Linked DNA regions of Homo sapiens: region 2 is linked to region 1. The links come from fine-mapping of genetic effects on gene expression. A gene starts in region 1. The other region holds a variant in brackets. All regions are shown on one strand. Distances are from middle to middle. Region 1 holds the start of TRABD-AS1 (TRABD antisense RNA 1). Region 2 overlaps PLXNB2 (plexin B2).

Region 1 (2,893 bases):
TCCCCGGTGGGCCTGGCGGCATCTGGACCCAGATCCTGCCTTATTAGACCACCTGTGTGCCCCCCCACAGAAATCTAAACGATGCCCACCTCACTTCGGGGTTAAAAAGGGCTGCCCGCAGGGAAGTCAGGGCCAGGCCTCCGTGAAGTCAGTCGCAGAGCGAGGCTGCTGGACGAAGCGGCCCGCCCCACGAGCGATCGGAGGAAGGCTGGGGACCTGCGGGGTTAGGGTTAGGGTTAGCCTAACCTCTCATCCCGGCTCCCGCCCCTGGGTTTGGAGCCCCAGCGAACGTCGGTAAACATGAGCGGCGTCCCTGGTGGAGCTGACTCCAAGGTCCTCGGCGGGTTGATAAGCACAGGGCGCGGGCGGCTGCCAGCACCGCGCTCCCGCGGGTGCAGGGGAGGCCCCACTTGGCAGTAGCCGCCGGACGCCCCCAACACCGCGCCGGGCGGAGGGAAGGGGCGCCCCGGCGGGGAGGACCCACCCGCGCCCCTCGCCCGCCCCGGCCCACCTGGAGAAGGGCGTGGGCCCGGCGCCCTTGAGCTGCAGCTCCCAGCGCTCGCCGGTCGCCGTGCACACCTCGCCCAGGTACATGGCGGCGCCGTCGCCCAGCTGCCCGGCGAACTGGCCGAATTGGTGGCCGCAGTAGCAGTGCGCGGCGGGCTCGGCGCCCGGCAGGAGCGCGTTGCCGCTGAAGAACAGCGCGGCCTCGGCCTCGGCCTCGCGCGCGGGCGGCGCGCCCAGGCCCAGCAACGCCAGCGCGGGCTCTGACAGCGCCACGAGGCGCGGCTGCCGCAGCGGGGTGGGCTGCACGCGGGTGAAGCAGGCCCCGGGCACGGGCCGCGGCGCGGACGGGGCGCCCTCGGGACCGGGCGGCGGCGCCTCCACGGGCAGGGCGCGCAGGGCGCGGTTGTCGAAGCGCAGCCCCGCCAGCCAGCGAGGCGCGGGCTCCATGGCGGCGCCCGACAACGTAGAGCGGGGCGCCGGCGACGGGGAACAGCGACCGAGGGGCAAGAGTCGGGCAGCCGCGAGCGAAGCCCCGAGCGCTGCCCTGTATACGGCCATCCGCGGCCCCGCTCCCGCCGGAAGCCAGCCTGCCCCGCCCGGAAGCCCCGCCCCGCGCGTCCCGCAACCCAATCGCCAGTGGGCGAGAGTGGGGCGGGTGGGGGGAGGGGTCGCGGTGTCTGGCCGGGCTCTAATTGGCTGCCTCGTCCGTCTATCCGCATCTCCCGGCCGGAGGGTCGGAGGCGTCCGGGGTGGCTGTCGGCGTCACGGGGCGCGCGCTGATGCGAACGGGGTGACAGATGGGAACGCCTCCGAGACCGCCAGCGACGACCCCGCTCGGGCAGCCCCGGATTTCCTCGGCTGCACCGGCGCCGGCAGCGGGGACCGAGGCCCGCGTCCGTTCGGGTCGGGCCGGGGCTTAGCCCCGCGCCCCACGGGCGGCCGGGACCCCACCCGGACCCCGCCGCGGTTCTGGGCCGCCGGAGCCTCGCGCCGCCTCTCGGGGACCTTGTCCCCTGGCCTCCGGCCTCTCGGGCCCCTCGCCTGCCGTCTAGGAGGGAAGGGGCCTTGGATCTGTGCCCCGCCCATGGAACAGCGCCCGGGCTCGGAGAGGCCCCGCGAGGCCGCAGGCGCAGACCCTCCCGGAGGGCTGGGCGGGCACCGGGGTCTTCGGCTGGCTTGAGGGACCCGACCCCTGGGGGAGGAATTTGGGGTCTGTGTGTCCGAATGAACGCGGGGGTTCAGATGAGTCTGTGGTGCCCCCGCTTTCCATCTCCTCCGGCCCCGGCCCCAGAGGACTGTCTGAGAGGCCGGTGGCCGCGGATCCTGGACGCGCCTCCCTCCTGCCTGTGGTTTCCCTTTATTCCGGCAGCGGCGCGAGCCCACCCTTCACATACAGGAGCTACATCCAGAAGCTTCTCCTGGGGCCACAGCGTGGGCTTCCGAGACTCTGCGTGACCCCAGCTCTGCCCCTTTGGGGCTGCGGGTGAAGCCCTCAGGACCCTCCGCGTGCGTTGGGCAGGTAACTGGATGAGGGATAATGTGGTGAGGTCCCCGTGCCCAACCCTCCTCTGCAGCCCACAGCAACCGTTCCCTCTTCAGCAGCCCCCTCCCCCCGGCCGCTCTGGGCGCCCGTTCCCAGCATCCTCCTTGGCAGGTGTTACCCCTCCCCATTCCCCAGGCCCTGGGCCCTCCTGATCTGTCTCCTCGACCCCCTGGGGCCCCAGTCTGGCTCAGTCTGGTCCACACTCTGGAATCTGGTGGGACTGGGTATGGAGGGTCTTGAGTGTCAGCAGGCCACCTGCGTCCCACCTGGTGGGTGAGAAGGGTCCCACAGGTCAGCATGGAGGGACCCGACTCTGTCTCTTCTGCTGGAAACCAGGCAGGTTCCTTCCCCCAGGGCCCCGGCAGGGCCACGAGTACCCGCTGCACTGGAGCACGGGGGAAGAGGCAGGGATCCTTCATTACCTGAACCCCATGTTCACACGTCACAAAACAGGAGTTTCCAAAATTAGAATTTATTTCAGTTTCTAAGGAATGAATCCCCGAGTGTGGCAGGAAGGACACAGCCGGCTCCTGACGCACACCTGATTTGATTCAACACCGAGTCGGCACAGACACAACCAGAGATGGCCTGGGTCCAGGCTGGGGCTGCACGGGCTGTGTCCTGGACAGCCAGGAGGGAGGCCCCGCACACAGACGGCCGCCGGGCAGGGGGCCTGAGCGGGACAGGCCTGGCCACAGCCCATGTCCTTGGCCTTCCACATAGGTGCACACATTGTCTGCCCAGAGAGGGCCAAGATGCCCCAGGCACCCCTTCGCTCCGGGGGCTCAGGACACAGGCTCCCAGCTGAGGCCACGCCTGGACCCAGAGCTGATGTTTGGCTGC
Region 2 (2,893 bases), 83 kb before region 1:
TTGGTGACAGGCAGGCTCAGGTGCGGAGGGAGGGGTGCCGGCCGGTGACAGGCAGGCTCAGGTGCGGAGGGAGGGGGTGCCGGTTGGTGACAGGCAGGCTAAGGTACGGAGGGAGGGGTGCCGGCCAGTGCTGATGGGTGTGTGGGAAGCCTGAGCTCCACCCGTGCCCCCCGACTCGGGGCCCCCACATGAGGTAGAGGGCACAGGATTTATCGGGGACAGAGGCCAGGAGGCAGCACTCGGGGGCCTTTGGATGGGCCTGAAGAGAGGCAGTGGAGGAGGCAGGCGTGTGGAGATTGAGGGGCCAGTGCCACCTCCTGAGGAGGGAGCTGTGGGGGCCACGATGTCAGGTGGGCCGGGCGATGTTCTCAGGTGTGGATGAGTGGTGGAGGTGGCCGTGGGAAACCCACAGAGGACGTTCAGAGGCTTCTGCAGACACAGGTGTTTGGGCTCAGGAGTGGCCGAGGGGTCAGCTGGCATGGTAATCTGAGGGGCGGGCATGTGTGGGGTGAGGAGAGGGCTCCCACACTGTAGGCACAGAGGAGGGGCTGCAGGGGTTCTGGGAGGAGGGCCAGGGTGCCACAGCCGCCTGTCCAGGGTCCTGACGGCATGGTCTGCAGGGTTCCTCCCTGCACGTGGGCAGTGACTTGCTCAAGTTCATGGAGCCGGTGACCATGCAGGAATCTGGGACCTTCGCCTTTCGGACCCCAAAGGTACGGCTCCAGGGCAGGCCGGCTCGGCTGCTGGACCCCAGGGCCCCGGGTGGGGTGGGGGGTCACCTTCAGGACTGTGAGGGGAGGGGCAGCAGGGAGACCCCAGGGACCAGAGCCCAGCCAGGGGCTCGCCATGCCCTGTGCTGCTGGGGAAGCCCCCTCTGCCCTCTGCCTCCCTGGGGACAGAGTGGCACAGAGCAGCGTCCATGGGGTTCCCGAACTTCCGACACCTGAAGGCCTCCCCTGCTGCCCTTGGCTGGGAAGGGACCCGGTGGCCACAGGGAGGCTGCCCTTGTGACCCCCGCCCCACGCCCCTCTGTGGGGGCAGGAAGTGCAGTGTGCCCCTGCGTGTCCCCCAGCTGTCCCACGATGCCAACGAGACGCTGCCCCTGCACCTCTACGTCAAGTCTTACGGCAAGAATATCGACAGCAAGCTCCATGGTGGGGGCCACGGGCGCAGTGGGGGGCGGGCAGGGGACGGGTGGGCACAAGGCGGTGGGTGGGGGGACAGGTGGGCGCAGTGGGGAGCAGGTCGGGGGCGGGCAGGCACGGGGTGACCACTGACGGCAGCTCTCCCCGCAGTGACCCTCTACAACTGCTCCTTTGGCCGCAGCGACTGCAGCCTGTGCCGGGCCGCTAACCCCGACTACAGGTGTGCGTGGTGCGGGGGCCAGAGCAGGTGCGTGTATGAGGCCCTGTGCAACACCACCTCCGAGTGCCCGCC[G/A]CCCGTCATCACCAGGGTGAGCCCCTCGAAGCCTGGCCTACACCTTCCCTCGTCCCTGGCATGAGCCCCTCCCTGCTCACCCGGCTCTGTGGTTTCAGATCCAGCCTGAGACGGGCCCCCTGGGTGGGGGCATCCGCATCACCATCCTGGGGTCCAATTTGGGCGTCCAAGCAGGGGACATCCAGAGGATCTCTGTGGCCGGCCGGAACTGCTCCTTTCAGCCGGAACGTTACTCCGTGTCCACCCGGTGAGTGGACGGCCCTGGTCTGGGCCCTGTCAGCTGGGTCAGTACCCACGCTGGGGTTCCGGGTGACTGGGTGGGTGGGGAGGCTGAGGGGGTGAGGGTGTCAGGGTGTGGGGTGGGTCGGGGAGTGCCTGGGCCACACTGCCTGTCGCCCGCCAGGATCGTGTGTGTGATCGAGGCTGCGGAGACGCCTTTCACGGGGGGTGTCGAGGTGGACGTCTTCGGGAAACTGGGCCGTTCGCCTCCCAATGTCCAGTTCACCTTCCAAGTAAGCACCCGGCCTCGGGGACCTGCCGAACCCGGGAGGACCGGGAGGAGGGGCTCTGCCCGCCGCCTCCCCACGACAGTTACCATCCAGCCCAGGACCGAGGGCGTCCTGTGCCCCGTCCTCACCCGAGTGCCCCTGCGGCTCTTTCAGCAGCCCAAGCCTCTCAGTGTGGAGCCGCAGCAGGGACCGCAGGCGGGCGGCACCACACTGACCATCCACGGCACCCACCTGGACACGGGCTCCCAGGAGGACGTGCGGGTGACCCTCAACGGCGTCCCGTGTAAAGTGTGGGTGTCACCGCCAGCTGCTGAGTCTGGTTGGCCCTGGCCCTGGGTATGGAGGGGGGCACTTACTGAGACCTGAGTGGCCCTGAGGGGATGGCGGGGCCAGCCTGGTCGGGCTGGGGCTGGTCCCGGGGGAGGGGTTGATGCAGACCAGCACCCTCCCTCCCCCAGGACGAAGTTTGGGGCGCAGCTCCAGTGTGTCACTGGCCCCCAGGCGACACGGGGCCAGATGCTTCTGGAGGTCTCCTACGGGGGGTCCCCCGTGCCCAACCCCGGCATCTTCTTCACCTACCGCGAAAACCCCGTACTGCGAGCCTTCGAGCCGCTACGAAGCTTTGCCAGGTGAGGCTGGTGTCCCCCCGCCCCCCTCTGCTCCCCACACCCAGCTGCCTCCTCAGTGCCCTTGGCTGACTGTGCTGAAAGGAATGTGGTGGGGCTGGTCTGTGCAGCGGGAGGCGGCCTCCGGAAAACCCCACTGCACTCCAGATCCACTTCCTCCTAGAAACCCAGATGGGCACACCAGAGGCTCCACGCTCACCAGGCCCCGTGTGCCCCCCGCCCACTTGCGGCACAGTCTCGTGCTCAGCACGTCCCACCGCGTTGCCCCTTTGCCCACCGAGACCCACACATGCACCTGGAAGCCCCGTGTGGTCAGGGCCA

What was found.
Region 2: its variant is fine-mapped to the expression of TRABD-AS1 in whole blood (TOPMed, PIP 0.91).

Annotation. Positions count from the first base shown.
Region 1 is chr22:50,199,209-50,202,101 of GRCh38, reverse strand. It overlaps TRABD-AS1 (TRABD antisense RNA 1), which reads left to right and starts at 1,319. Exons shown (of 2, transcript NR_186698.1): 1 at 1,319-2,026; 2 at 2,774-2,893. TRABD (TraB domain containing) reads right to left here. Exons shown (of 10, transcript NM_001320485.2): 10 at 2,507-2,893. It overlaps SELENOO (selenoprotein O), which reads right to left and starts at 1,091. Exons shown (of 9, transcript NM_031454.2): 1 at 512-1,091. The coding sequence starts at 1,065. RefSeq lists an enhancer at 22-261 and silencers at 622-701, 832-1,771.
Region 2 is chr22:50,282,393-50,285,285 of GRCh38, reverse strand. It overlaps PLXNB2 (plexin B2), which reads left to right. Exons shown (of 37, transcript NM_012401.4): 12 at 621-713; 13 at 1,073-1,154; 14 at 1,296-1,453; 15 at 1,536-1,684; 16 at 1,841-1,949; 17 at 2,100-2,236; 18 at 2,405-2,575. Among named protein-coding and RNA genes, the nearest start is that of MAPK11, 13 kb to the right of the region's middle. RefSeq lists an enhancer at 1,970-2,893. The variant G/A (reference allele first, on the strand shown) is at 1,438.